Linked DNA regions of Homo sapiens: region 2 is linked to region 1. The links come from fine-mapping of genetic effects on plasma protein levels. A gene starts in region 1. The other region holds a variant in brackets. All regions are shown on one strand. Distances are between the middles of the regions.

Evidence for each region. PIP is the posterior inclusion probability: the model's chance that the variant is causal. The UK Biobank Pharma Proteomics Project read protein levels with antibody pairs (Olink). The fine-mapping took linkage between variants from a reference panel, not from the people measured, so its PIPs are less certain.
Region 2: its variant is fine-mapped to the plasma level of the CPPED1 protein (UK Biobank, PIP above 0.99).

What each region holds. Positions count from the first base shown.
Region 1 is chr16:12,793,884-12,810,082 of GRCh38, forward strand. CPPED1 (calcineurin like phosphoesterase domain containing 1) reads right to left here and starts at 10,004. Exons shown (of 4, transcript NM_018340.3): 1 at 9,824-10,004. The coding sequence starts at 9,893. RefSeq lists enhancers at 8,184-8,263, 9,586-9,955 and a silencer at 10,036-10,085.
Region 2 is chr16:12,762,076-12,778,274 of GRCh38, forward strand. The region is part of intron 2 of CPPED1 (calcineurin like phosphoesterase domain containing 1); the gene reads right to left. Among named protein-coding and RNA genes, the nearest start is that of CPPED1, 34 kb to the right of the region's middle. The variant T/C (reference allele first, on the strand shown) is at 6,883.

The DNA of each region.
Region 1 (16,199 bases):
TCACAGCCGCCTGCAGGCTTTCTAGCTAAAGAGCAAATGGCAACAAAATGCAATTTTTGCAGTTTCTCACAATAGCAATCTGCATAGTGAATCACAATCTAAATGTCTCCAGCAATACCCTTCAACTGCTCTGGGGACTAATCTTATTTCAGCAGTTTAAAAAAAAAAATCACACACCAAAGAGTAGCTAAACAATATTTACCACTTTGGGACTCTTTCTGACTTAACAATCGTAATGTCCCCACTGTGAAGCTGCCAGAATGGTATGCAGCAGATAAGAGTGTCCTTCATTAGTGGCTGTTTAGGGGTTGGGGGTCTTTGGGGGCAGTTTCAGCACGGGGTGCAGGGTTTCTTCTTGGATTAAGGAAAATGTTCTAAAATTGATTGTGATGGTTGTACACCTCTGTGAATACACTAAAAGCCACTGAATTGTACACATTTACACTGTTGAATCAGAAAGAAGCCCAAAGTGGTAAATATTATTTAATTAACAATTCACATGGTGAACTGTAGGGTATGCTAACAGTTGTTAAAGGAAAAAAAAAAAATAGTGTCCTTCAGGACCCTGTCCCTCCCCCCACCCCCAAAATAATTAACTGTGACAGCAATATCCTCAAGAGTCTCCAAATGACTTGTCCTAAGTACAGGTTGCATATCTCTTATCTGAAATGCTTGGGACCAGAAGAGTTTCAGATTCCAGACTTTTTTCAGATTTTGGAACATTTGCATATGCAAACTGGTAGTGCATTCCTAATCTGTAAAATCTGAAATCCGAAATGCTTTTGAGCATGACCTTTGATCATCAAGTCAGTGCTCAAAAAGTTTCGGTCGGATCTTAGAGCATTTTGCAATAGGGATGCTCAACCTGTACAAAGGTAAATTTACCCAACCTCTCTTTTCTTGGCCTAAATGCATCCAAAAGGCAGTTTTTGAGACACACAAAAGATTCTGAGTCATGGCTTGGCTGCCACAATGGCCGTCCTTCCAAAATCTTTATCTGCAACTCTTCAGAGAACTAAGAAAGCAGATGGGCTGGGACTTCGTGGCCAGGCGGCTTTTGGCATCACTGGCTTTGGCTGACGCCATTCGAGACAACGGTTAAAGAGGGGAAAAGACATTTCCAGAACCTCTCTCACTTTTCAAGAGCAGAACTCCACTTGGGGTTTGCCTGGTTTTGGTGGATATTTGCTGTTATTTTTTTTCCCATTTCCCTAACAAGACAGCAGGCAGCTGCTGTCCCAGGCAGCACTCTGGGAAGAACTGGTAGAAGGCGCCTTCTCTGGGCAGAAGCAGCTGTGTAGGCACATGGCCAGGCTAACAGAAGCCCCAGATGCAAAGAGAAGGTAACCCTTCCCCCGGGCAGATGTGCTCCATGTGAGGGCACCCACCTGGTAGGCAAAACCTCTGCCTCTAGATGCTCTGGAGTAGTGCACACAGTGCACAGCCACCTGGTGTAGTCATGCAACTTTTTTTTTTTTCAGAGTCTCGCTCTGTGGCCCAGCCTGGAGTACAGTGGCATGATCTTGGCTCACTGCAAACTCCGCCTCCCAGGCGCATGCAGTTCTCCTGCCTCAGCCTCCAGAGTAGCTAGGATTACAGGTGCCAGCCACCATGCTCAGCTAATCATTGTATTTTTAGTACAGATGGGGTTTCACCATGTTGGCCAGGCTGGTCTCAAACTCCTGACCTCAAGCGATCCACTCGCCTCAGCCTCCCAAAGTGTTAGGATTACAGGCGTGAGCCACTGTACCCAGCCAACAACTTCTATTGGTTTGATCAACACCTTGGTCTCAGCTTTGTTTAGTCCGGAGACTCCATGGTACATGAGAGCAGTGGGTTGGACAGATACACCCAGGTGACCCAGGTGGAGTGTATTCATTCATACTCATCCATTTACTCAATATTAAATGGTCACTGAGGCCAGGCGTGGTGGCTTAGGCCTGTAATCCCAGCACTTCAAGAGGCCAAGGTGGGCAGTTCACTTGAGGTCAGGAATTCAAGACCAGCCTGGCCAACATGGTAAAATCCCATCTCTACCAAAACACAAAAATTAGCCAGGTGCAGTGGCATGCACCTGTAGTCCCAGCTACTTGGGAGTCCGAGGCAGGAGAATCACTTGAACCCAGGAAGCAGAGGTTGCAGTGAGCCAAGATCACGCCACTGCACTCTAGCCTGGGCGATAGAGCAAGACTTTGTCTTAAAAAAAAAAAAGCCACTGAGTGTCTACTACTGCTAGACACCATCCTAGGTCTGGGCTTCTTGCTCCTCAAGAATTTATAGTGTACAGGTAGAAAAAGACAGCAAAGTCACAAGAAGAAACATACAACTGGCCAGGCACTGTGGCTCATGCCTGTAATCCCAGCACTTTGGGAGGCTGAGGCAAGTGGATTACCTGAGGTCAGGAGTTCCAGACCAGCCTGGCCAACACGGTGAAACCCCATCTCTACTAAAAAATACAAAAATTAGCCAGGTGTGGTTGTGTGCACCTGAAATCCCAGCTACTTGGGAGTCTGAGGCAGGAGAATCGCTTGAATCCAGGAGGCAAAGCTTGCAGTGAGCCGAGATCATGCCACTGCACTCCAGCCTGGGCGACAGAGTGAGACTCTGTCTCAAAAAAACAACAAAAAAAACTCACAATGAGATACTACTTCACACCGATTTGGATGGTTATAATAAAAAAGAGTGGCAATAAGAAATGTTGGCAAGGATATGGAGAAACTGGAACCCATATACACTGCTGGTGGGAATGTAAAATGGCGCATCTGCTTTGGAAAATAGTTTGGTGGTTCCTCAAAATATTAAACATAGTTACCGTATGACTCAGCAATTCCAATCCTAGGTATCTACCCAAAAGATATGAGAACAAATACCCTTAAGAAGATGTGTCTGTGACTGTTCATAGCAGCTTTATTCCCAATAGACAAGAGGTACCCAGATGCGTGAAATGTCCATCAGTGTCAAAAAAAAAATGTCCAAATGTTTATCAATAGGTGGTCGGATAAACAAAATGGGTTATCTATACAATGGAATATCATTTAGTAAAAAGGAACAAAGTATTGGTTCAAGCTACAAAATAAGTGAGCCTCAGAAACCTTATGCTACCACAAAGAGGCCAGTCACAAAAGACCACATATTTTTCCATTAACATGAAATGTCCGGAAAAGGCCCATCTATGGAGGTAAATTAGCAGTTGCCTGTGCTGGGAGTGGCAACATGAAGAGACTTGCAAGTGGGTATAAAACCACTTTTTTGGGAAGGTAGAGATGTGCTAAAGTTAGATTGTGACTACACCACTCTAAAGTTAATAAAATCCCTTGAGTTGTAAACTTAAAATGCATGTTATGGTACATAAATTATACCTCAAGAAAGTTATTAAAAAAATTTAGGCCAGGTGCGGTGGCTCATGCCTGTAATCCCAGCACTTTTGGAGGCTAAGGCAGGAGGATTGCTCGGGTCCAAGAGTTCAAGACTAACCTGAGTGACACAGCGAAACTGTCTCTACAAAAAATATAAAAATCAGCCAGGCGTGGTAGCACCTTCTCTGTTCCTAGCTACTCAGGAGGTGGAGGTGGGAGGATCGAGCATGGCTTGAGCCCAGGAGGGGGAGGCTGCAGTGGGCGGAGATCATGCCACTGCACTCCAGCATAGGTGACAGAGTAAGACCCTGTCTCCAAAAAAAATTTTAAAGCAGGCAAGGCCCAGTGGCTCACACCTGTAATCCTAGCACAGGGATTTCCAATCTTTTGGCTTTCCTGGGCCACAACGGAAGAACTGTCTTGGGCCACACATGAAATACACTAACATTAATGATAGCTGATGAGCTTGAAAAAAAAATGGCAAAAAATTCCGAACTTTTAAGAAAGTTTAGGAATTTGTGCTGGGACACATTCAAAGCCATCCTGGGCCACATGTGGCCAGCAGACCATGGGTTGGACAAGCTTGTCCTAACAGTTTGGGAGGCTGAGGTGGGAGGATAGCTTCAGTTCAGGAGTTCAAGACCAGCCTGGACAACACAGTAAGACCTTGTCTCTACAAAAAAATACTTAAAAATTAGCCAGGCATGGTGGTGCACGCCTGTAGTCTCAGCTACTCAGGAGGCTGAGGTGGGAGGATCACTTAAGCACCACAGGTTGAGGCTGCAAATCAGCCATGATCACACCACTGTACTCCAGCCTGGGTGACAGAGCAAGACCACCTCAAAAGAAATAAAATACAATAAATAAATAAATAAATTTTTGAAAATGAAAAACCCCGACATTCAAAAATAAAATTAATTGTGTTTTCTGGAAATGTTATAGTGCAAACTTTTTACATATGTGTGCTGGTCACTCTATCCCTTGACTGATGATTACAACAAAGAGTTGAGAAAGTAATCATAAGCCCTATTTACTCACAGGAACTCTCAAATAAGAGGACCTTCAAATATATCTCAAATAAGAGATAACTAGTTTGGCCTAAATGTATGGCACAATTTAAAGCATTTATTTCATCATCATCATCCTGTTAGAATTTTTAAAACCACAATATTTTCAACTTTGTTCAAACTTGGAGATACCTTTCCAGGTCTACTATTTCTAGAAAAGTTCTTAGGTGAGACCTGCAAGAGACAGAGTGAGTTATTTTTTTACTGACACTATTCTCTGCCAAGGGAGAAGTTTTCCAGAGAGTACAAGGAAAGATTCAGGATTAGCAAATTCCATCAGCTTCTTAGGAATGAAATGTCTGGGAAAATAATCTTTTTAAGAATACCACCCATTAGTCCAGTTCTCTGAAGGGAAAATATCAAACTGGAAAAACAGATTCAGACCTAAAAATAATTAAGTCACTTTAAAAGCATATTTTATCTTGATCTCTCTCCCTTTTAGGATTTCTTCAAAACAGAAGCCATAAACTTCTCAAAAGACAATTACTAGAAGAAAGTAGTCCTAATTAGGATATGTGTCAAGAAAACCTAATTATCAATTTGCCTAATTAAAATGAATATCTGAACATGCCTTAGGAATGTGAGCTTTCTCAGGTGAGACATGTACAATTTTTTTTAATCAACATCCGTCAACAGAGCCTAGCACATTATGTTAACAGGGAACGGATGACTGAAACCAAGTGTCACACATACCACTACTGGAAGGAGTTGATGGGAATACTGTTACTCACGTAAATCACCGGTGGGAGGAAATGGGTCTTAAAGCAAAGCGCTCTTTCATTTAATTGGCAGGCTACACTTGGAAAACAAACTGCTCAATGAGCTGATTCTGCAGCAAAGGTGAAGGGTTCAGAGCTGTGATTTTTAGGGACTGTTGCTTGAGTTAATCAAACCCCTTTGATGGTGTGTGTTTTGGCAAGAGAAGGGGAAAAGTCAGTTTTTTTTTTTTTTTTTTTTGAGACACAGTCATCACTCTGTCTCCTAGGCTAGAGTGCAGCGGGCAATCTTGGCTTACTGCAACCTCCGCCTCTCAGGTTCAAGTGATTCTCCTGCCTCAGCCTCCCAAGTAGCTGGGATTACAGGTGCCTGCCACCACACCCGGCTAATTTTTTTAATTTTAGTAGAGATGGGGTTTCGCCATGTTGGCCAGACTGGTCTTAAACTCCTGGCCTCAAGCAATCCACCTGCCTCGGCCTCCCAAAGTGCAGGAATTACAGGCGTAAGCCACTGCTCCCAGCCTCGAAAAGCTAGTTCTTTAACTTTCTCAGTCTGCCCAAGGGGCAAATCTACTGGCTTCCCAAGGAGTCTGGAGAGGCCTCTGATGCCTCTAAGGGCACCTCTCCAAGTTGCCAGCGATGCTAATAGAGTCAGGACCCCGGGGAATTGTCAATGAGTGCAATGGAAGCAGCAATGGTAGGCTAGGGTTCAGCACCTAGTAATGTGAACCCACAAACCTGGGGTTCTCAGCAGAACACTCTGAGGCTGGGCCTCTCTAGGCCCTCCGTTAAATGACCCATCCTGGGTGTGTCTATGGGACTGCATGGCTCACAGAGGAGATCAAGTGCTGGCCCCACTTCTAGATTTACTCGGGGCTAAGAAAAGTTCAGAGTCACTCTCTCCTCCTATCAGCAGGGTAGGTATCTTATAGATTTATCATCAAGTCTCTCTCCAGCATCCCCATTCTTATCCAGGGGAGCTGCTCTCTGATCCTCTGGTCCCAGTGGTGGCCCCCTGGCAGCTGCAATGGCCTAGGAAGCTACTATACCTCAGCACTCCCACCATCTCCACTGAAAGACACCCCGTGCCCAATAGGCACCTCCAGCTACAGCAAATAAACACATTCAAAGTAAACAATGGGGGCCAAGTGCGGTGGCTCATGCCTGTAAATCCCAGCACTTTGGGAGGCCGAGGTGCCTGAGGTCAGGAGTCCCAGACCAGCCTGGCCAACATGGCGAAACCCTGTCTCTACTAAAAACACAAAAATTAGCGGGCATGGTGGTACATGCCTGTAATCCCAGCTACTCGGGAGGCTGAAGCAGGAGAATCGTTTGAACGTGGGAGGTGGAGGTTGCAGTGAGTAGCATCACTGCACTGCAGTCTGGGTGACAGAGCTAGACTCTGTCTCAAAAAAAAAAAAAAAAAAGTAAACCATGGGGGACTACAGAAATGCAGCCTCTGGACAAATCCTTGAGCTCCAGCTTCCAACTGGATTGCATCCCAAGTTGCTCTAAAGTAGAAATGCTTTTGTTGCCATTGCTGCAATCAGACCACTCTTTTCAAAATAAAAATCTGATCATACATCCTTGCTTCCTCACACATCCAGCTTGAAACCTCTTGATGCTATTAGGACACGACAAAAATCCTTAGTTACCACCACCTCCCTCTCCAGCCTCAGCCCACACCATGTCCCAACCTCATCTTTCTGCTCCAGACTCAGAGACTTCCTTCAGCCCTCATCCTTCCCTTTCCCATCCTGCCATGTCCTAGGACTCTCACACTTGCTCTGCCCATGGTCCACATGGTCTTCCCTCCCTTCGTGGCCCAGTTAACTCATACTCCTCTTTTAGCAATCAGACGAAGCAACACTTCCTCAGGGAAACCCTGCGTGAATGACCTCAGAGCCCACCAGTAGCCAAGCATTATTTTTTGTGCCCTAGCTTTGTACCTGGATTATTACAAGCCTCTGAGAGCATGTAACTTGAACCACTCCCCCGCCCCCAACTTCCTATTCTCCACCATACTGGACAGTGCAATAGGAATATAAGAAATATTTATTTCCTTTCGGTTTTTTTGTTTGTTTGTTTTGAGCTGGAGTCTTGCTCTGTTGTCCAGGGTGGAGTGCAGTGGCACATTCTCGGCTCACTGCAACTTCTGCTTCCCAGGCTCAGGCAATTCTCCTGCCATAGCCTCCCAAGTAGCTAGGACTACAGGCATGTGCCACCACACCCAGCTAATTTTGTATTTTTAGTACAGATGGAGTTTCACCATGTTGACCATGCTGGTCTCGAACTCCTGACCTCAGGTGATCCACCCGCCTCAGTCTCCCAAAGTGCTGGGATTACAGGCGTGAGCCACCGCGGCCGGCCCTCAACAAATATATAGGCGTGAGCCACCGCAGCCAGCCCACAACAAATATTTCTTGAACTGAAAAAAAAAATAATACAGCAGAGTAACAGGGAACTCTCATATACTGCTGGTGGGAGTATAAATTGGCACTACCACTTTGGAAGGCAGTTTGACCACATCTAGTAATGCTGGGGATGATTATACCCTATAACCCAGAACATAGCTTGTAGGTATATGCCTCAGAGTAACTCTCCCATGTGTCCACAAAGAGATTTGTACAGAATGTTCATAACAGCACTGTTACCAAGGGCAAAAACCAGAAACAACTAAATGGCCATTGTATTAGTCAGGATCCTTGCAGGAAATAGTTGGCATTCTCAAATTAGGATGATTTTAAAAAGGGTTTAAAAAGGGATTACTTGGTGGGGGTTGGGTGGACGAAACCTACAAGGGAGTGTGGTAACCCAAGGTTAGAAAAGCAGAACCACTGCCACTCCCACGCCTCAAAGGAGGAAATGGTTACTCAAATCCAGAACTAGAGAGAATGAGGAGAAAAGCTGTCCTGAGAAAAGGAGCGACCTTGACCTTCAGGGGTGGGGAGGAAGACAGCCAGGCGAGGCAACCCCACAGAGTAAACTGCAAGAATAAATACAGCTGCCTTTTGCTTCTCTCCCTGCTCTGATTTCTTCTCAGGGCTCCCCACTGGCTGAGCCCAAAGGAAAACCAAAAGGCAAGGAGCCCACCGATGTAGCTCACGGAGGGCAAACCCCTGGGGCATGGTGGGGAAGGGAGAAAGGTTTGGAGAGGCAAAGGGAAGATATTCAGCATATACATCAACAGAATGTATAAGGTATATAATCATCCAATGGAATGTTGCCCAGCAAGAAAAGAGCAAAATCTTCATGTTGGACAAAAAAGACAAGGTCCATTAAAATACAGTCGTCCCAGGCCGGGCGCGGTGGCTCAGGTCTGTAATCCCAGCACTTTAGGAGGCTGAGGACGGCGGATCACCTGATGTTGTGAGTTCGAGACCAGCCTGGCCAACATGGAGAAACCCCATCTCTACTAAAAATACAAAATTAGCCGGGCGTGGTGGTGCGTGCCTATAGTTCCAGCTACTCCAGAGGCTGAGGCAGGAGAATCGCTTGAACCCGGGAGGCGGAGGTTACAGTGAGCCAAGATCGTGCCACTGCACTCCAGCCTGGGCAATAAAGCAAGACTCCGCCTTAAATGAATAAATAAGGTTTTACCATAGAATTACCGGAGAAACCTACTTTAGATAAGGTAGCAGGTAAAGTCTCTGAGGAAGTGAATGAACTTTAAAATGAGGTGTGACGGTTGAGAGAGCCAGGCTCACCAACCCTGCTAAAGAAGCAGAAAACAGCAAGCGCCAAGACCCTCAGGGAAAGAACGGCCTTGGCCCTTTTAAATGCAGTTCAAACAAGGGCAACAACAAAACCTGTTGCAGAACTGGGCAAGAGAGAGAATGACAACCCTGAAGGAAGTGGACACAAGCCTGATCATATAGGGCATTTAGGGTGACTTCCCTGGGGGTATAAAGCTGGTGAGAGCCTGGGAGGCGATCTGGCTGCAGGCAGCAAAAAGCCACAGAGGGGAATCAACAAACCAGAAACAAACCTCCCTCTTTACTTAGCACCTAGCATGCGTCCAACACCGGGTTACAAAAATACTTTTGATCTGTTTACGCTTCCAACAACCCTATGAGGCAGGTATTATCAAACCCATTTTTAAGGCAAAGCAGATAATCTAAATCCAAAATCCAAGCACTTCACTACGACTCTCGAATGCCCTCCCTCTCTACTGCTCTGATGGGGCAGTGTTACCATTTCGGTGAATGACTTAAATAAACGTCATTATGGAGTACAGAATACATAACGGTGAACAACCTTAATAAAACCGACACCCTCTAACATGCACCGAACGCTTATCCAGTAACACCCACAAGTATTCCCGTTTCACAGATGTGGAAGCTGAGGCCAAGATGCTAATGCACAGCTTGGAAACCAGGTCTCGCTGCAGAGTCCAAGCTGTCATTAACTATGCTTTGCTACCCTCCTCTTACTTCCCTTCTCTGGGGGAAGTTAGGTCAAGGCCAAGGAGGCTCCTAGACCAGATCGCTCTCTCGGCCTCGCCTCTCAACTGCGCCCCTGGAATCCCTAAGAGCAGGCTTTGATGCAGCTATGGCGGCTCCCAGGCCCCGGTGCAGCCCCGGATGGTGTCCGACTGGCGGAGCGCACACCTGAACAAAAGGTTCCCCCGGCGGAAGGTTCCGCAGCCCCAGAGTCCCCTCCCCGGGTGAGGGGCGGGCAGTACCTGCGGGAAACGCGGCCAGGGTCCTGCCCCTGGCTCTGTGGAAAACACCCCCCGCCTCTGCAGCCGACATGGCGAGCGAGTTTCTGGCCTTCACTTAGAACACTGCGTGGGTGGAAGCCGCGCGACTTCACACAGAACAACCGCTGGACCTGTCCCGCTTTGGGCGACGCCCTTTGATCTCGGGGCGGGACTGGGGCGGGACGGGGAGGGGCCCGGTGGCTCGGGGCGCCACTAGTGCTGCCTGGGCGGAGCGGAGGCGCCAGCGGCCCCTCTGGGATCGACCTGCGCGCCTGGCGAGTGGAGACTGTCTAGGGCACGCGTGGGCGGGGATAAGGCTTTGGGGTCAGTCCTTCCCTAAAGGCAGAGTTACTAGATTTAACAAGTAAAAATGCAGGACTCCCGGTTAAATTGGAATTTCAGATTTTTTTTTTTAAAGAATGACTGACTTGGTATAAATATGTCCTATGCAGTATTTGGGAGCTACTTACGTTAAATTTTTTTTTCATTATCTGAAATTCCAATTGAACTGGGCGTCCTAATTTTTTTAAATTTTTCTCTTTTTGCAGGTTTGAATGGAAGCGTCCTGATTTTTTTTTATCTGACAACTCTATCATAAAGTCAGAAGGAGCCACTGGGGTGGCTTACGCCTGTAACCCCAGCTCTTTGGGAGGCCAAGGAGGGAGGATCGCTTGAGTCCAGGTGTTGGAGACCAGCCTGGGCAACACGGCGAGAGACCTTGCCAATACAAAAAAAAAAAAAAAAAAGATGAAAAGGTGGACGTCTTGGAAGACTGTCTCAGCCTGAACTTCCCAGTGGCTGCCACCATCTTTCTGTTATTATCTTTGCTTGCTATGCACCAGGCAGGGCGCTAAGCACTTTGCACGCTGCTCACTTAATCCCCACTACAGCCCTAGGAGGTGGTGCTGTTATTAGCTGCATCCGTCATTTGGGGAAACTGACGCTCAGAGAGATGAACGAACTTGCACAAGGTGACACACATCTAGAGAGGTAGTAAAGCTGCGAGTAACCAAATTAGTGTCTCTTCAACTCAAGAGCCATTGTAGTGAACTACTTAGCCAGCATTTGTCAAACGTGTTGAAAATACAAATTCCAGAATGGACCTATTGAATCCAAATCTCTATGAAAATGATCTGTGTTTTGTTGTTGTTGTTGTTGTTTTGAGACAGGGTCTCACTCTGGTTGCCTAGGCTGGAGTGCAGTGGCACAATCTCTGCAGTCTCGATCTCCTGGGCTCAGGTGATTCTCCCACCTCAGCCTCCTAAGTGGCTGGCACTATTGGCGTGCGCCACCATGCCTGGCTAATACTTTGTATTTTTAGTAGAGACGAGTTTGACTATGTTGCCCAGGCTGATCTGGAACTCCTGAGCTCAAGCAATCCACCCACCCGGGCCTCCTAGAGTGCTAGGATTACAGGCATGAGCCACAGTGCCTGGCCTGAAAATGATCTGTTTTTAACAAGCACTGCAGGGGAGCTCTTATGATCTTACAAATTTGGGAAATTCTTTTCTAAACTAGCTGCCTACATCCAAAGCACTGTTTGAGTAGCTAATATGGCCATAACTACTGTTCTCTAATCCTTGACAAGAGTCACCCATGAATCATAGTGGTTAAGAGTATAAATGCCTATGAGTCCTGGAGTCAGTGGGCTTGGATTAATCCCGGTTCTACCCACTTACTGGTTGTATGCTCTTGAAAATTGCATAGTTTCTCTATGCCTCAGTTTCCCTATCTGTGAAATGGAAACAATAGTAGCATCTAGGTCATAGGGTTGCAGAAAGGCTTAAATGAGTTCATGTATCAAAGTGCTTAGAATAATAGTTCTAATAACAAATGGTAGGTACTCAATGAATATTAGCCATTGTTATTATTAATCAATCACTATAACCCTATTCCCTGAACATGGCCTGGCCCAGAGGAGGAGTCCCAAGAAATGTGAAGGAGGCCGGGCGCAATGGTTCAGGCCTGTAATGCCAGCACTTTGGGAGGTGGAGGTGGCGGATCATGAGGTCTACAGATCGGGACCACCCTCGCCAACATGGTGAAACCTCATCTCAACTAAAAATACAAAAATTAGCTGGGTGTGGTGGTGCACGCCTGTAGTCCCAGCTACTCGGGATGCTAAGGCAGGAGAATCACTTGAACCCGAGAGGCAGAGGTTGCAGTGAGCCGAGATCCCGCCGCTGCACTCCAGCCTGAGCGACAGAGTGAGACTGTGTCTTTAAAAAAAAAAAATGTGAAGGGGAAGCTGAGCACAATGGCTCATGCTTGTAATCCCAGCATTTTGGGAGGTTTAGGCAGGAGGATTACTTGAGCCCAGGAGTTCAAGACCAGCCTGAGCAACATAGTGAGAACTCATCTCTATTAAAAAATTTTTTTTAATTAAAAGAAATGTGAAGGAGAGAATGAATTATAGAAACAGACCCTGCCTCTTATTCACTAGCTTTGCAGTCATACTGGCCATTCAGTTCATTAAACATGCAAATTAATTTCCCTCTCTGCATATGCAGTTCTTTCTGCTTAAAATGCCTCTTCCCAGCTGGGCACCGTGGCTCATGCCTATAATCCCAGCATTTTGGGAGGCCAAGGCAGGTGGATCACGAGGTCAAGAGATCAAGACCATCCTGGCCAACATGGTAAAACCCTGTCTCTACTAAAAATACAAAAATTAGCCAGATGTGGTGGCGCGTGCCTTTAATCCCAGCTACTCGGGAGGCTGAGGCAGGAGAATTGCTTGAACCCGGGAGGCGGAGGTTGCAGTGAGCTGAGATCGCGCCACTGCACTCCAGCCTGGTGAAAGAGCAAGACTCTGTCTGAAAAACGAACAAACAAACAAAAAAGTATCTTCCCCTGCTGAGCTAAAGCCCATTTGAACATGAAGGCCTGCAGTTAAATAACACTTCTGTGGAGAGGCCATGCCCTACCCATTTGCACACTTTGCTGATCTAAACTAGGCCTCCCTCATTCTTTGTTAGAGCACTATGTTCTTGTCCCTTGTTGCACTTTGCACAGTTGATAATTATATGTTTTCAGGTGTAATTATTTATTTAATGTTGACTTTCCCGACTCAACTATAAGGTCTATTAAGTTGGTTACCTTTTTAAAAAATTTACTGTTTTGGCCGGGCACAGTGTCTCACGCCTGTAATCCCAGCACTTTGGGAGGCCAAGGCAGGCAGATCATTTGAGGTCAGGAGATCGAGACCAGTCTGGCCAACATGGTGAAACCCCATCTGTACTGAAAATATAAAAATTAGGTAGGCATGGGAGCACGCCTGTAATCCCAGCTACTTGGGAGGCTAAGGCAGGAGAATCACTTGAACCTGGGAGGCGGAGGTTGCAGTGGGCCAAGATCGTGCCACTGCACTCTAGCCTGAGTGACGAAGTGAGACTCTGTCTCAAAAAAAAAATTATTATTTATAAAGATGGTGTCTCACTGTTATCCAGGCTGGTCTTGAACTCCTGGCCTCAAGTGATCCTCCTGCCTCAGCCTCCCAAAGTGTTAGGATTACAAGCATGAGCCGCCACGCCCAGCTGAGGGCAGTTACCTTGACTGTCTAGCTCACCAAGCAGGATGCCTGAGGCATAGACACTAAATGTTTGTTGCATTAATAAATAAATGGATTATGAATATCTCAACAAGATAACCATATTTTGAACCTCAGCAGCAATTGGGAATAGATCTATAGGCCAATCTGGAGCAACTTCAAAACTGTACCAGTGCATTGGATGATAGCAATAGCTGCAATTGTGAAAGGAAAATAAATATTGAGACCCCAAAATCACTAAGCCAAGGGGAAAAGTCAGGCTGGGAGCTGCTTAGGGCAAACCTGCCTCCCACTCTATTGCTGAAACAGACAGCTACTAAGGCTGGGTACAGTGGCTTACACCTGTTATCCCAGCACTTTGGGAGGCCGAGGCAGGAGGATCACTTGAGGTCAGGAGTTTGAGACCAGCCTGGCCAACATGGTGAGACATCCATCTGTACTAAAAATACAAAAACTAGCCAGTTGTAGTGGTGCATGCCTATAATCCCAGCTACTCGGGAGGTTGAGGCAGGAGAATCGCTTCAAACCACAAGACGGAGGTTGCAGTGAGCTGAGATTGTGCCACTGCGCTCCAGCCTGGGTGACAGAAGGAAACTGTCTCAAAAAAAAAAAAAAAAAAACCTACTAAGATAAAAAAGCTACGTACGTCGCTCAGAAGGAATTTCCTTGTAGACAAAGGACAGACAGAACTCAAAGTTATCCCTCTGCTCACTGAGATAAATGCATTTCTGACTGCCTCCTCTGGAAAAGCTAATCAGAAACTGGAAAGAATGCAACCTTTTTTTTTTTTTATTCCCCCGAGACAGAGTCTTGCTGTGTTGCCCAGGCTGGAGTGCAGTGGCATGATCTCTGCTCACTGCAACCTCTGCCTCCCAGGTTCAAGCGATTCTCCTCCCTCAGTCTCCTAGGTAGCTGGGGTTACAGGCATCTGCCACCACGCCCAGCTAATTTTTGTATTTTTAGTAGAGACGGGGTTTTGCCGTGTTGGCCAGGCTGGTCTTGAACTCCTGACCTCAGGTGATCTGCCCGCCTCAGTCTCCCAAAGTCCTGGGATTACAGGCATGAGCCACCGTGCCCAGCCACCTTTTGTCTCTTATCTACCTGTGACCTGGAAGCCCCCTCCCCACTTCGGGTTGTCTCGCCTTTCCAGACGGAACCAATGTACATCTTACATATATTGATTGATGTCTCATGCCTCCCTAGAATGTATAAAACCAAGCTGTGCCCCGACCACCTTGGCACGTGTCATCAGGACCTCCCAAGGCTATGTCATGGGTGCACATCCTTAACTTTGGCAAAGTAAACTTCCTAAATTGTCTGAGAACTGTCTCAGACATTTGGGGTTCACACTTTTTTTCTTTTTTGAGACAGAGTTTTGCTCTTGTCGCCCAGGCTGGAGTGCAGTGGTGTGATCTTGGCTCACTGCAACCTTTGCCTCCGGGGTTCAAGTGATTCTCCTGCCTAAGCCTCCCAAGTAGCTGGGATTACAGGTGCATGCCACCATGCTAGGCTAATTTTGTAGTTTTAGTAGAGACAGAGTTTTACCATGTTGGTCAGGCCGGTCTTCAACTGCTGACCTCAAGTGGTCCACCTGCCTCGGCCTCCCAAAGTGCTGGGATTACAGGCGTGAGCCACCATGCCCAGCCTGGTCTTGCCAGAGGCATTTGAACCAGAGAGACTCCATCTTGAATAGGGGATGGGTAAAATAAGGCTGAGACCTGCTGTGCTGCATTCCCAAGAGGTTACGCATTCTAAGTCACAGGATGGACCTTAGGAGGTCGGCATAAGATACAGTCGTAAAGACCTTGCTAGGCTGGGCGCGGTGGGTCATGCCTATAATCCCAGCACTTTGGGAGGCCAAGGCAGGCGGATCACCTGAGATCAGGAGTTTGAGACTAGCCTGGCCAACGTGGAGAAACCCCATCTCTATGAAAAATATAAAAATTAGCCAGGTGTGGTAGCAGGTGCCTGTAATCCCAGCTACTTGAGAGGCTGAGGCAGGAGAAGCACTTGAACCCGGGAGGTGGAGGTTGCAGTGAGCCGAGATCATGCCACTGCACTCCAGCCTGGGTGACAGAGCAAGACTCCATCTCAAAAAAACAAAACAAAACAAAACAAAGACCTTGCTGATAAAACAGGTTACAGTAAAGAAGCCAGCCAAAATGAAGATGGCAATGACAGCAAACCTCTGGACATCCTCGCTGCTCATTATACACTAATTATAATGCATTAGCATGCTAAGAGATACCCCACAAGCACCGTGACAGTTTACAAATGTCATGGCAACATCAGGAAGTTATCCTATATGGTCTAAAAAGGGGAGCTCTCATTTCCAGGAATTCCCCACCTCTTTCCTGGAAAACTCATGAATAATCCACCCCTTGTTTAGCATACAATCAAGAAATAACCATAAAAATGTGCAACCAGCAACCCTCAGGGCTGCTCTGCCGATAGAGTAGCCATTCTTTTATTCCTTTACTTTCTTAATAAACTTGCTTTCACTTTACTGTATGGACTTGCCCCAAATTCTTCCTTGTGTGAGATCCAAGAACCCTCCCTTGGCGTCTGGATAGAGACCCCTTTCCAGTAACAGTCTTATGGCCCCCACCCAGGCACTGACTTTGTGCAAAGATGACAACTTCCCCATGATTTCATTTCTTCTATTTTTATTTTATTTTATTATTATTTTTCTGAGACGGAGTTTAGCTCCATCACCCGGGCTGTAGTGCAGCGGTGCGATCTCGGCTCACTGCAAGCTCTGCCTCCCGAGTTCACGCCATTCTCCTGCCTCAGCCTCCCGAGTAGCTGGGA
Region 2 (16,199 bases), 32 kb before region 1:
GAACAATGGAAAGAAGAGTTACAGTCTTAAAATAAACATATCCTCGGCTAATTGAGAGGACAGCCTGGGGTCTGCCCAAGGGCAGGGAACTGGGCCTCCCTCTTCTGCTTAGTCCCCTGGGACTTAAATTTCCACATTAAAAATACTCTCTCATTTATTTTTACTTCTTTGTCGGGGGAAGAGGGTAACGCCACGGAGATGGTGAATTCAATTTCTTGGACCACTAGGGATATTATTTAGTAATGGAGGTAAAAATATGATATTGTACTAGTTATGCTGTATGTCAGGGCAAGAATCTAATTTCCACTTTCCTTAATGTTATCATCTGAATAAAGTGATTCAAATTAATCAACAATCTGCTTCTAAGAATTTATCTCATAGTATAATAAAAAGTAGTAGCAGTAGATAGATAAAATGTGGTATATCCATATGGTAGAATATTATTCAACAACAGCTACAACATGGATAAACCCTGAAAACATCATGGTAAGTGAAAGAAGTCGATCCCAAGGCGCCGCATACTGTATATTTCATTTATATGAAATATCCAGAATAGGCAAATCTACACACGGACAGTGGATTAGTGGCTGCCTAGGGCTGGAGTCGGAGGTGAAGGGAAATAGGGAATGACAGCTAACAGGGACGGAGTTTCTTTCTGGGTTGATAAAAATGTTTTGTTTTGTTTTGAGACAGTGTTCCACTCTGTCCTCCAGGCTGGAGTGCAGTGGCACAATATCAGCTAACTGCAACCTCTGCCTCCTGGACTCAGGCAATCCTCCCACCTCAGCCTCCCAAGTGGCTGGGACTACAGGTACACACCACCACACCCAGCTAATTAAAAAAAAAAAATTTTTGTAGAAATGAAGTCTTGCGCCGGGCACGGTGGCTCACGCCTGTAATCCCAGCACTTTGGGAGGCCAAGGTGGGTGGATCACTTGAAGTTGGGAGTTCAAGACCAGCCTGGCCAACATGGTAAAACCCCATCTCTATTCTAAAAAATACAAAAATTAGCCGGGTGTGGTGGTGGATGCCTGTAATTCCAGCTACTTGGGAGGCTGAGGCAGGAGAATTGCTTAAACCTGGGAGGCGGAGGGTGCAGTGAGCCGAGATGGTGCCATTGCACTCCAGCCTGGGCAACAAGAGCAAGACTCCACCTTGAAAAAAAAAAAAAAGAAATGAGGTCTCACTATGTTGCCCAGGCTGGTCTCAAACTCCTGCGTTCAGGCTATCCTCCCGAGGCCTGCCTCAGCCTCCCAAAGTGCTGGGATTACAGGCATGAGCCCACCATGGCTCGCCTTGGTAAAAATGTTTTAATACTGATTTTGGTGATCATTACACAACTCAGCAAATACACAAAAGACCAATGAATGGAAATGGATGAGTGGCATGGTATGGAATTCAATCTCAATAGAGTCATTATTAAAAATAGAAGTAATCGTAGTTATTGGGCTGTATTAAATGCCAGCCAATATTCTAAGCACTTTTATAGATTATTTCATTTAAGTCTTATGAGAAACCTATGATGCGAGTACCATTATTATCTGCATTTTACAGATAAGGAAATTCAGCTACAGAGAGATTAGATAACTTGCCCAAAGCTATTTGGCCAGGAAACAAGAGAGCCAGGATCTGAATTTAAGCCATCTGACATCACAGGCCAGTTCTCAACTGCTGCCCATGTACACAAACGTATGGACTCCAGGAGGGGCCCTGCAGTGCTGGTTCTGGCAGGACTTCGGACACAGTCTGAGCCTCAAATACTAAACTGGTGCCAAAGTAATTGCAGTTTCTGCCATTGAAAGTAATGGCAAAACTGCCATTACTTGAGCACCAACCTAATACAAGCTGGTATTTTGTCCACTGAAAAAAGTGAAACAAATCTGCATATCCTGCTATGGAAAGACCAGGACAACAACAAGGTATTTAAACATTGTGTCTTTTTTGCTCCCATTTGCATTTTTTTTTTTTTTTTTACAAAAAGCTACACATGCAAGTGTACCCATACTTGACAAGTTTCCATAATTTTTCATGAAAAAGCATTAACTGTAGCTTTCTCTGAGAAGCAGGTCAATGGTGACAGGGACATTAAGGTTTTTTCTGGATACCTTTTGGTACTGTTTGATTTTAATTTTTTTTTTTTTCTTTTGAGACAGAGTTTCGCTCTGTCGCCCAGGCCAGAGTGCAGTGGTGCGATCTCAGCTTACTGCAACCTCCACTTCCCAAGTTCAAGCGATTCTCGTGCCTCAGCCTCCCAAGTAGCTGCGATAACATGCACATGCCACCACACCCAGCTAATTCTTGTATTTTTTGTAGAGAGGGGTTTCACCATGCTGGCCAGGCTGGTCTCGAATTCCTGAGCTCAAGTGATCTGCCCACCTTGGCCTCTCAAAGTGCTGAGATTACAGGCGTGAGCCACCACACCTGGCCAAATTTTTGAATTTTTTTGTAGAGTTGGAGTTTTGCCATGTTGCCCAGGCTGGTCTCAAACTCCTGACCTAAGTGATCCTTCTGCCTCAGCCTCCCAAAGTGCTGAGATTACAGGCATGAGCCACTGCGCCTGGCCTGATTTGAATTTTTAATAAACCATGAGCCTGGTGGGAGCCACCCAGTCGTGCTCCAGTTTCAACGGAGCCTTCTCTAACTCAACCACCTCCCACCCTCTTGGGTATCACAGGCTCAGAGCCACCATTTTGTTTTATTTGTACCTCTTGATGCCTCATGACTCTGCCTGTCTAGCCTGTAAGTGTCCTGAGGACAGACACCGTATTTGTTTCTTGCTAAGCAGGGGCAAACACATAGGCAGATCCCCTCGGTTCCCATCAGAGAAACAAATGAGTAAATGAATTAAAGTCAAACAACTTGACCTCACCTGCCAGCCTCAAGGTCATGAGCAGTGACTGGTGGAACAGAAGAGTGTCACGCTGTAAACCATGTCTGTCATATGAACTATGTCCCCGCTAGCACTGGGAACACTGTGACCTAAGAAGTCTGGAGTGGAACTCAAGTAAATGATTTATTCCTTTGATTAAACACATTTACTTTCATCTAGTCCCAGAGAATTTATGGAGCCATAATCCCTTCCATCTCTAATGCTGTTCATTATCTCTTCCTAATTAATGAAGGTATGTAAATTCATTGATCTAAAACTTTGCAGGCATAAACGTTACTCAGGTAGTGATCCAGCCCCACACTGCTAACAGCTCAAGCTTCATCACGTTCTACCAGTTTTTAAATTACACATGTTATCAGACAAGATTCATTTAATTTTGCAGCTAACAGCTACAGCTGATTATGCTGGCTGCTAGATATTTATAGCAACTCTTGTTGAATCTGTACTGTTAACCTGCTTAGGATATAATTAATAAAAGAGATTTAACTGTCTGACATAATAGGCAGCTTTGTATGATATAAAATATGCTTTAATGTGCTTTCGGGAAAAAAAACATTAAGAAAGGTATATTATCCAAGTGAAATTTGTTACATTGCTACCTTGCAGATCAATACAAAATTTCTTCACAAGAATATTTATGGATGATGACAGTGGTATTTCACTCAAATAATATATAAAGAAAGAAGGGAATGGTAAATTTTTTCTACAAACCAAATAATACATATTGAATAGAACCTACCATGGCTTTCCAATAAACTACTTAGGAACTGGGGAAAAACCATACAGAATTTGAAACATGCAGGTGACTTTCTAAATTCTGGGTTCGCGAAATATATGTCCTCACCCGTTCTGGCATTCAAATGCGCCATTTTCCAACCTCTCATTATTTTTTTTCATTCCACATTCTGATCACTTGACCAATTACCTGATAATTGAACCCCTTTGGGATCATGCTCCTTTTCAGTGCTTCATTTCGTTGCAGAAAATAGGCCCATCAAGGAGGCAAAATGTTCTAACTCCAGGAAATGAGTGTTTAGAGCAAAAACAATGAAAAAGAAGATGTAAATAATCCAGTCAGCTAAGCACAAGCTAGAAAGACACTCGCTTTGTCTATGGCATGTTGATTTGCCAGGGGATTGTGCAAACTTCTGCAGAAGGCGTTCATTAGCTCCAGAAAACCCCAAAGGGAGGCAGAGGCGGGTGCATCACCTTAGGTCAGGAGTTCGAGACCAGCCTGGCCAACATGGTGAAACCCCATCTCTACAAAAAAAATACAAATATATATATATATAGAGAGAGAGAGAGAGAGAGGGAGAGAGAGAGAGAGAAAGAGAGAGAGAGAGAGCTGGGTATTGTATTAGTACATTTTTGTGCTGCTGATAAAGACATACCTCAGACTGTGAAGGAAAAGGGGTTTAATTGGACTTACAGCTTCACGTGGCTGGGAGGCAGAAGGCGTTTCTTACATGATGGCAGCAAGAGAAAAATGAGGAAGATGCAAAAGCAGAAACCCCTGATAAAACCATCAGATCTCGTAGTATGGGGGAAACCACTCCCATAAGTCAATTATCTCCCACTGGGTCCCTCCCACAACACATGGGAATTATGGAAGTACAATTCAAGATGAGATGTGGGTGGGGACACAGAGCCAAACCATATCAGGTGTGGTGGCGGGCACCTGTAATCCCAGCTACTTGGGAGACTGAGGCAGGAGAATTGCTTGAACCAGGGGGGCGCAGGTTGCAGTGAGCAGAGATCACGCCACTGCACTCCAGCCTGGGTGACGGATCAAGACTCCGTCTCAAATAAAAAGAAAAGCAAAAACAGAAAACTCCAAGGAAGCACAGGAGGTAGGCTCTAGGACTCTTCTGCTCAGAGGGCTGGTCTGGTGTCTCTGATCAGACTGCCATAGCCGATTTGCCTAACGGCCTCTACAATCATGGTCTGCTATGAGCGACAGCATTCCCAGGTGGGAGCAGAACACAAGAGCATTCAGATCCCAAGTCATTTTGGCTCCATGGTTGCTCAGAGGTCCTCATTTTTTTTTTTGAGTCATGGAGCCTGTATCAGTCATGTGCTCCAGGGAACCAATAGGAGATACACAGATATGTAAGAGGAGGCTTAGTAAGGGAATGGGTTCACAGGGTCACAGGGGCCAAGAAGTCACACCATCTGCCATATGTAAGCCGGGGGTTTCATTCAGTCTAAATCCAAAGGCCTGAGAATCAGAGAAACTGATGGTGTTAGTGCTGGTCTGAATCTAAAGGTCTGAGAACCAGGAGTGCCGATGTCCAGGGGCAGGAGAAGGTAGACGTCTCAGCTCAAACAGGAGGCAAATTCATCTTTTCTCCATCTTTTTGTTCTATTCAAACCCTCAATGCATTGGATGATGCCTGCCCAAAATAGTGAAGGCATATCTTCTTCATTCAGTCACCCTCACGAACACACCCAGAAATCATGTCTTCTCAGCTATCTGGGCACCTCCTAGCCCAGCCAGGCAGACACGTAAACTGAACCATCACCAGGTCCTTGAAGGATCTGATGAGAGCTGTGGACCTTCTCCCCACTGCAGTCCCCAGAGCATCATCACGACCTCAAGCATCTATGCAAACACACTGGACTTTGCAGAGCTGACAGGGCCCACTGGCTGGATGAAGCCCATCCATGGAGCTCACACCCAGGTAAAGAAACCTACGCCGAGAAATTGCCCTACTGGGGTGCAGTGGCTCATGCCTGTAATCCCAGCACTTGGGAGGCTGAGGCAGGCGGATCATCTGAGGTCAGGAGTTTGAGACCAGCCTGGCCAGCATGGTGAAACTCCATCTCTACTAAAATATAAAAATTAGCTGGGTGTGGGGGTGGGCACCTGTAGTCCCAGTTACTTGGGAGGGTGAGGCGAGAGAATCACTTGAACCCAGGAGGAAGGTTGCAGTGAGCAGAGATCGCGCCACTGCACTCCAGCCTGAGCGACAAATTGGGACTCTGACTCAAAAAACAAAAAACAAAAAAACCCCTGCCCTATTGGACACTGTATGACTTAGTGCCCCAGAAGGAAAGTTTCATAAAAATTTTCTTTAAAGATAAGATTTTCCAGGAAAAGCTGAATTCCTCTTAGATACGGATAAGATGTTGTTTCTTTGACAACCTCTCTCTGGCTGAACCTTCAACTGAATTCTATCAACCAAAAGGACTCTTAAGACCTTTCTGTTTCGCCCTGCGGTTTTGTCTTCCTATATGAACTTTTATTTTCTTTGGTCCTGACATATTTCTTCTCTACTGTGTGCTTTTGCTCATTTTAAGCCTTCTCAAATGCTTCACTGAACAAATAAATAAGGCGAGGCTCTCTGTTTTCACTTTTTGATCTAAACACTGGAACCCAGACGGAAAGATTATGCTTTTTATTTTTAACCTAATCAAAAGGCAACTGTTAACTAGTCCCTATTATTGAGCTCTTGCTACTTCTTTTCATTGAATAATCAAATATCCACACTTTTCTAGCTACGATTAAGACTTCTGGCCTTTAATTAAAGGTACAGTTTCACCATTGAGTTTATATTTTGGTCAATTAAAATAGCCACATGTTGACCATGAAAAGGTACCTCCAAAAAGTCAAAGAACAAGAGTATGTGCGTATGTACACACAGGTGTGGGCTCTTATTCTGGGGCCATGGGGATCTGGGGTTCATCCTGTGAACTTCGATGGGAGGAAACCAGTTTTTTCATGAACTTCTGATATTTAGCATTTCCTTCTATTATGAAGTTAGTAGAAATTACAGAGGTATTAACAACCCCCTTGAATTTCACACCAACAGAGATCACATGGATTTTTTTTCCCATCACATCACACTTGTTGCAGATTAATTCAGGGTATGGTTTAAACTCACTGCCATTTTTTCTTTTTCTTTTTTTTTTTTTTTGAGACGGAGTTTCACTCTTGTTGCCCAGGCTGCAGTGCAGTGGCACGATCTCGGCTCACTGCAACCTCCACCTCC[T/C]GGGTTCAAGCGATTCTCCTGCCTCAGACTCCCAAGTAGCTGGGATTACAGGCACATGCCCCCACACCTGGCTAATTTTGTATTTTTAGTAGAGACGGGGTTTTACCATGTTGGTCAGGTTGGTCTTGAACTCCTGACCTCAAGTGATCCACCCGCCTCAGCCTCCCTAAGTGCTCTGATTACAGGTATGAGCCACTGTGCCTGGCCTTAAACTCAACTGCTATTTTGAAACTATGACAGTTATTAGCTCTGCTATTAGACTGTGTTATATAATAGACCAACACATGAATTATTACTATATCCAATAATTTAAAAAATATTTTGATAACCGTATTTCAATAGAATTGGTTTCCTCGAAAATCCTAGGAACTTTATTTTGTGTATTTAGAAATATTATTCTGAGATGGGATCCAGGGGCTTCAGCAACTTGATGAAGGAATCCGAGGCACAAAATGGGTTAAGACGCCGAGACTTGGAATAAAGGACTGACAGCAGCCAGTGTGTCTCCTCTGCCGGACTGCCACGTAGAAAATGCTGGCAGGGGTGGAAGGGCGATCACACACCTAATCAGAAACAACTTTTTAAGTAATATTCCCAGTTCCCTAATTAGTCATATAAGGTAAATTAGTTCCAACCACTTTTAATCAGCCTCAGCAGAAGGGCGGCATTGTCACTGATTGCCTGGATGATTTCACCGGGCTCATACTGGATGTGAAGGAGTGCAGGAGCCAGGGGGCTTGGCTGATTGCTCCCAGGTTACTGCTCAGCATTCGACCCACACGCGACCTGCTGGAAAATCTGAGCACAGACAGCCCCGGCCCATTCCAGAGGCTGGTGATATTTCAACTATGGCATCACTCTCTTGCACGCATAGAACTCCCTTTTTATGTTTCTCTGTGTTAAACTGTAGGGTAAATTGTCTTTAAATCCTGGCATTTCTTGGAGCCTGGTGTAGACACTTAAACATAACAACGCAAGGCTAATGACACAGCTGCGGAAATAAACGTGATTTAACTGAGCCTCTTTAAAAACAAAACCAAACAAAACAAACAGATCCTACTTTAATATGAACAAAACGGTTTCTGTTCAATGGAAATGTTCTGAGTATCTATGACATGGTAGGCGGTGCAGGAACTTATTGCTTACATGAAAGGGATGGAGGCTGTTGGCTACAAATAAGAGATAGCATGGAAGAAAAGTCCTGGTCAGTCCCTGTCCCTGAGAGATGTTCCCCAGAGAACTGCTAAGAGAACGGCCTGGTGTGCTCTCAGTGCAAATGGCGCTGAGGCAGATTCTAAACCCAGGCAACCCTCTTGGACTTCAAGCCTAAAGAAATACTTACCTGACTGTACAACAGCACGTCTGAGGATGCTCACAGCAGCACTGTTCAAATTAACTCCCACCTGGCGTTACTGCAAGATTAACCAATTATGAAATCCCCATCCACAGAACGCAATGCAGTTATTAAAAGCCTCACATGTATGTACAAATGTAAGGTTTTCTAGACAGATGGAAGGAGAAAAAGTAAATCACACAACAATGTGCACAGTATGATCACGTTTGTATTTAAGAAAAGCATGCTGACCAGGGCGTGGTGGCTCACACCTGTAATCCCAGCATTTTGGGAGGCCAAGATGGGTGGATCACCTGAGGTCAGGAGTTTGAGACCAGCCTGGCCAACATAACAAAACTCTCTCTACTAAAAATACAAAAATCAGCCGGTGTGGTGGCACACACACCTGTAGTCCCAGCTACTCGGGAGACTGAGGCAGGAGAATCGCTTGAACCCGGGAGGCAGAGGTTGCAGTGAGCCGAGATCGCGCCATTGCACTCCAGCCTGGGTGACAGAGTGAGGCTATATCAAGGAAAGGAAAGGGAGGGCAGAAGGAAAGGAAAGGGAGAGAAGGAAAGGAAAGGAAAGGAAAGGAAGGGGGAGGGGCGGGGCGGGGCTGGGAAAGGGTGAGCATGCTGACATTGATGCACACTTTTGACCACAGTGACCCCGAGGGAAGCACTTAGGGGGTGGTCAAAGTTTATTTTAAATATAGATTTTAAATTTACAAGGAGAATGTCTCTACATATTACTTGTAGAATTTAAAAATCTAATAAAGTAACAATAAAAAGATCCGTATCTACCCTCATTTAAATCCTACAGGAGACTAGGATGACAACAACAAAAAACACGGAGAACTTCATGTTTCAATATATCTACATGTATCTATATTCCTTATTTCTAAGTGAAGCACAGATTTCTGTCTGTTTCATTCACTAACACAGCACAAACATCTAGAATAGTGCCTGGTGCAAAGTAGACTCTCAATACAGATTTGTTAAATAAATGAATTGACTATTTATTCATGTGTTCCAGAAAACTGTACTGGGTGCCTACCATGTGCTGGCTTCTTGCTAAAGATCACGGGAAACAAACTGTGAATCATTTAACCAGCATTCACTGAATACCTTCCACGTGCCTTGCACTGGGCACTAAATGAAAGTACACACCAATACGGACACACAGACACACACACCCCCACTGCCCTTTAGGAACTTGGAACTAAGCTTGGGAGAAGGCGAACTAGCAGAGGTTGGAGCAATGAGATAAGGCCTTTTCCTGGCCAGAGCCTCAATCCTGGCTTTGGTTTTCAAAATTATGCCTCCGAGGCTTTGCTTATTATGGCCTGTCTTGTACCAGAATTATGTTCATGGGTTTGTGTCTGCCCAGCTGGAGGAAAATGAGTATCAACCTTCCTGGATTGTGGAACCACAGAAAAACAAAGGGCTTTATTCTTTGCCTGAAGCCCAGCAAACCAAAGCATTCTTTGTTCAATGGCTTTATTTCCCAATTCTATACATTCATTACAGAATTAGAAACCTCCCAGTGGGGGTCAGGCATGGTGGCTCATGTATGTAATCCCAGAACTTTGGGAGGCCAAGGCAGGTGCATCACCTGAGGTCAGGAGTTTGAGACCAGCCTGGCCAACATGCAGAAACCTTGTCTCTACTAAAAATACAAAAATTAGCTGGGCTTGGTGGTGCATGCCTGTAATCCCAGCTACTTGGGAGGCTGAGGCAGGAGAATTGCTTGAACCCGGGAGGCGGAGGTTGCAGTGAGCTGAGATCGTACCGCTGCACTCCAGCCTGGGCAACAGAACAAGACTCTGTCTGAAAAACAAAACAAAACAAAACAAAAAAAAACAAAATTCCTAGTGAGGAAGGAGTGTTGATGGTCATTTGGCCATGGCTACTGTTATCAGGACCTTGGTCTAGGCCTTGACATCTAATTGAAGGTGAACAGCTACCAAACTAGATGAATTAGAAGTTTTCAGGTCTCACTGGGGCATTTTCCTGATAGAAAAGCCTAACTCCTTTCATCAGTAATTCTACTTTACTTCCCCATAGCATCTCCCATTCTTAGACGCACTCTACTGATTTGCTTCCTCTCCTCTCCAGACTTTTGCAGCCATATCTGCACAAATCCAGCCCTTCTTTACCTTGAAGTTCAGACTTTTCTACCTAAGTGGATTATTCTGCTTTATCTATAGCAAATATCACTTTTGTGCATGCTCCCTCTCCTCCATTTGTTGGAATCATTTCTAAATTCAATTCCATTTTCATATTGAGTCTCTTTGGTCCCAATAGAAATGGTCCCCAAAATTCAAATATCAGATGTCTGGGACCCTTTTAACTTCTGAAAATGCAGTTACTGGGCAATGGATGTGCGAAAGTTAACTCGGGGAATGACATTAAATCAGAAAAGCCTTCTGTTTTTAGTGATGAAAAGCTTCTTCATCTATAAATCCCAAAGTATCAACTTTGCAGATCCATAAGCTCTTATCCCAAACCCCCTAGGCCAGATCTCATTTGAAATTCCAAGTTTTTCTAACTTTAGAATGGTAAGACAGGTCATAGAACACATATTAAACAATACTTCAAGCTGGGACTCGGGCAGTGCCCTGTAATGAAATCCAGTAATATTTTGTTAGCAAAACATATGAATATGCTCACTAAATATTGGGATCAATAAAGACCATAAACAGCCCTTTGTCACTTGGAAGGCAGTTTTGCCACCAGCTTAGTTTCAAACTTAAGAAAAAACTCTTAGTTTTCAGAGCTTTCTGAACTTTTGAGATGGTAGGTAAGGGGTTATGTACAAGTGCAAGACCCAAACGAAAGAAGCCATTGTAGCTCTCTTAAGCATTCTGCATAAAGACCCTTTTAAAGTATATATGTGTGGCCGTTTTCCTGAACATCAAAGGGCTATTTTGGAAGTCCTGTAAGAAGAGGTCATCCTGCGTTATTCAGTGTTGTGTAAAAAGCAAAGCAAAACCTACAAACTTAAAGCATTTCCCTTTAAATGCTGAGCATGTGTAAGTCTAAAGGAATAATGGTTCTCCTGATATACACCATTATCAGTTAAAAGGAATGTTCACAAACCACTTGCATACACACAAGATTACATTTAATACATTAAAAAGTGGCCCCGACTCGGCGTGGTGGCTCATGCCTGATAAGTCCAACACTTTGGGAGGACGAGGCAAGCAGATCACTTCCAGCCAGGAGTTCAAGACCAGCCTAGGCAACATGGTGAAACCCCGTCTCTACTAAACATACTAAAATTAGCCGGGCATGGTGGTGCACACCTGTAACTCCAGCTGCTCGAGGCTGAGGCATGAGAATTGCTTGAACCCGGGAGGTGGAGGCTGCAGTGAGCCGAGATCATGACACTGTACCCAGCCTGGGCGACAGAGTGAGGCTGTGCCTCAAAAAATAATAAAAATACATAAAAATACACAAATAAATAATAAAATAAAAAGTGTCTGTCTCAGCCACCCACGTGAACAATCTGTGGTGATTTGGCATCACCGCGATTCCTGACTCTCAATTTACATGCTACCAGTAAACAATCATTTTGTTACACCTATTCACACCTAAGTACTTAACAGTAAAAAATATGACACACCATTAACACGGGAGAAAACAGTGTGCCCAGGGAAACTAAGCAGCACAGTGGCATCACTGGAATACCTGCCTCAGCTGTTCAGCAGCAACAGATGACAGCAGGCTTCCAGTCTCCACCCACAATGCTGCGTTCTGACTCAAAGGCTCCTGTGCACTGTATTTTATTTTTTCAGGTGAGAAGAAACATCAGAAGCAGTTGAGGGACCAGAAAGTGAGTCCGCCAGGGATGAGGAGGCATTCTGCTAGATGGCTTTTTAAAAATGTTCCCTCCAAGCTGGGTTCAGTGACTCAACACCTATAATCCCAGCACTTTGGGAGGCGAGGAGGGCAATCACTTGAGGTCAGGAGTTCAACCAGCCTGGCCAACAAGATGAAACCCCATCTCTACTAAAATTACAAAAATTAGCCAGGTGTGGTGGCAGGCGCCTGTAATCCCAGCTACTCAGGAGACTGAGGCAGGAGAATCACTTGAACCCGGGAGGCAGAGGTTGCAGTGAGCCGAGATCATGCCACTGCACTCCAGCCTGGGGGACAGAGTGAGACTGTCTCAAAAAAAAAAAAAGTTCCCTCCAGAGTCATCTGCCTTATTAACAAGGGCTTTTGTCTTAGAAATCTCTTTTATTAACTGACACAATTTCTTGATCTGTTATGAATGCATGCTGTTCTAGTCCTTCAAAAGCTCACCACACATTGCTATGGTTTAAATATTTGTGTCCTCCAAAACTCATGTTGAAACGTAATCCCCAGTGTGGCAGTTCTGAGAGGTGGGGCTTTTAAGAGGTGGCTGGATCGTGAGGGCCATGCCCTCATGAATGGATGAGTCCATTCATGGATTAATGAATGAATGAGTTAGTGGATTAATGGGTTATCATGAGAGTGGGACAGGGTGCTTTTTTGTGTGTTTTTTGTTTGTTTGTTTGTTTGAGACAGGGTCTTGCTCTGTCACCCAGGCTGGAGTGCAGTGGCATGATCACGGCTCACTGAAGCTTGGACTCCCAGGTTCAAGCAATCCTCTCGCCTCAGCCTCCCAAGTAGCTGGGTCTACAGGTGTGCACCACCATGCCTGGATAATTTTCTATTTTTTGTATAGACGGGGTTTCACTATGTTGTCCAGGCTAGTCTCCAACTCCTGAGCTCAAGCAATCCACTTGCCTTGGCCTCCCAAAGTGCTGGGATTATAGATGTGGGTCACTGCCCTGGGCTGGTGGCTTTTTAAGAAGAGCAGAGACCCGAGTTAGCACACTCAGCCCCCTCCCCATGTGATGTTCTGTGCCACTTTGAGAGTCTGCAGAGAGAGTCCCCACCAGCAAGAAGGCCCTCAGCTGATGTAGCCCCTTGACCTTGGACTTCTCAGCCTCCATAACTGAAAGAAATAAATTTCATTTCTTATAAACGACCCAGTTCCAGATATTCCATTATAAGCAACAGAAAACAGACTAAGACACACATTTTCACCATGTCATCTATGGGTACTTTTCCTGCAGCACTGCCATCATCCTCATCATCACTACTATAGGTTGAGTATCTCTTATGCAAAATGCTTGGGACCAAAGGTGTAGAGTTTTCCACTATGGTGTCATGTCAGTGCTCAAAAAGTTTCACATTTTGAAGCATACTGGATTTTCAGATTAGGGATGCTCAATCTATCAGTGCTTCTTGAACCTCATTGTCCATACAGTTCATCTGGGAATCTTGTTAAAATTCTGATTCAGATCCATTAGGTCTGGGCAGGGCAGAGATTCTACATCTCTAACAGCTCCATCTGCTGCTCTGGGCACCACCTTCTGTCTGACCAGCCAGGCTGCAAAACGAAGCGCACAAGGTTTGGAAACAGATGAACAAGAGTTCCCAGTTTACAAGCTGAGTGGCCTTGGGAAAAGCAATTCACTGCTCTGAGCCAGTTTCCCCATCAATTAAAATGGAAATAGCAATGACACCTCCTTTGCAAGACTGTAATGAGTAGATAAGATAGTAACACAGTTCCTGGCAGATAACAGACCCTGAATTCCAGTCCCTGCCATCTGCAGTAGGCTGAACAATGTCCCTCCAGAGATGTTCGACATCCTAACTCCTGGAACTTACAAATATGCTACCTTATATGGCAAAAGGGGAATCTGCAGATGGGATTATGTTAAGGATCTTGAGATGGAAACATTATCCTGGGTTATCTGGATGGACCTAATATAATCACCAGGATCTTTACAAGAGGAAAGCAGGAGAATCAGAGTAACAGAATATGAGAGGGTGGAGCAGAGGTCAGACGGGAGAAAAGGTGCAATGCTGCTGGCTTTGAAGGCAGAAGAAGGAGCATGAGCCAAGAAACGCAGTTGGCCTCTAGAAGCTGGAACCCCTAGAAGGAACACACCGCTGCAGGTTCTTGTTGGACTTCTGACCCCTGGGATGGTAAGAGAACTGTTTGATTCCACTAAGTTGGTGGTAATTTGTGATAGCAGGAACAGGAAACTAACATACCATCCTTTGGAATAATACTGATATGGTTTTGCTGTGGTCTCACTCAAATCTCAACTTGAATTGTAGCTCCCACAATTCCCACATGTTGTGGAAGGGACCTGGTGGGAGGTAACTGAACTGGGGGGGTTCTTTCTCATGCTGTTGTCGTGACTGTGAATAAGTCTCACGAGATCTGATGGTTTTGTAAAGAGGAGTTTCCCTGCACAAGTTCTCTTCTCTCTTGTCTGCTGCCATATAAGATGTGCCTTTCAGCTGGGCGTGGTGGCTCACGCCTGTAATCACAGCACTTTGGGAGGCTGAGGCAGGTGGATCACGAGGTCAGGAGATCGAGACCAGCCTGGCCAACATGGTGAAATCCCGTCTCTACCAAAAATACAAAAATTAGCCGGGTGTGGTGGTGTGTGCCTGTAGTCCCAGCTACTCAGGAAGCTGAGGCAGGAGAATCGCTTGAACCCAGGAGGCGGAGGTTGCAATGAGCCAAGATCATGCCACTGCACTCCAGCCTGGGCAACAGAGTGAGACTCCATCTCAAAAAAAAAGATGTGCCTTTCGCCATCTGCCATGATTGTGAGGTCTCTCCAGCCACGTGGAACTGTGAGGCAATTATTCTTTTTGCTTATAAATTACTCAGTCTGAAATTTGTCTTTATCAGCAGCATGAAAACAGACTAATACAAATACTAAAGCAGGCTTGCCTCCCTTTACAGAACAGAGGACTTCCCAGGGCTACATCATCAACTGAAACTAAGTCACAGAATAGTTGCCCAAGTGCAGCTGAATACATGAAGAACTCTTCAAGGAAACTTTATATCAAGGGAAGAATTATTCCTGTATTAACTGTTTTTGTGTGGTTATGCCAATTTTTAATAAACAGGGATGAATGTATATGTTAGTAACAAACTGTTCTAAAGGCTCAAAGGAATCTCTTGCACCCTAAAGGTATCATCATGTTCTGATTTGTCAGCTTCACACGTAATTGCTGAAATCTAACAAGGCTTCTGGGGACAAAACCAGTGGGTCGATACCTCAGCATCAGGAGGACTGACAAGAGTAACCCTAAATTAAGAGTGAAGGATGAAAATCAATGGGTCTCAGTATTTGCACAAATGTTCACTTGCTACTTACAATGTGGCTTACCCCATAGAGGAGCTTTATAATAGAATAAAATACCAAGATAACCCAAAAGATGCCTGCAAAACAAAAATGTGTTTCAAAACTAAATGGACTTTGTGTGAAACAAAGAAGCCTGTATCTCTTAAGGATTTTCCTATGGGCTTGGCACCAAGGACTCCTCTTCCCATCACATTTTTGTGCTTCTCTGCCAAGACTCTAGTTCCACAGAAAGACCTGGTCTCTTGTCTCCAATATTACATCCATAGCATCTAACACTGTAATTGGCACTTAGTTTGCACACAGACATTTTTGTGGATGATAAGTACTATAATAGATATTTATAAGAAAAAGCATATTATTACTTTCATTAAAAAAAAAATGAAAGTTCTTTTTTTCTATTTTCTTTTTTTTTTTTTTTTCTTTTTTTGAGATGAAGTCTTGCTCTGTCACTCAGGCTGGAATGCAGTGGTGTAGTCTTGGCTCACTGGATTCTCCACCGCCTGGGTTCAAGCAATTCTCCTTCCTCAATCTCCCAAGTAGCTGAGATGACAGGCCCACGCCACCATGCTGAGCTAATTTCTGTATTTTTAGTAGTGATGGGGTTTCACCATGTTGGCCAGGCTGGTCTCGAACTCCTGACCTCAAGTGATCCACCCACCTCGGCCTCCCAAAGTGCTGGGATTACAGGTGTGAGCCACCATGCCTGGCCTTTCTCCATTTTCAACTTAAATCCACTTGGCCCAAGATATTTTCTTTTCTTTTTTCTTTCTTTCT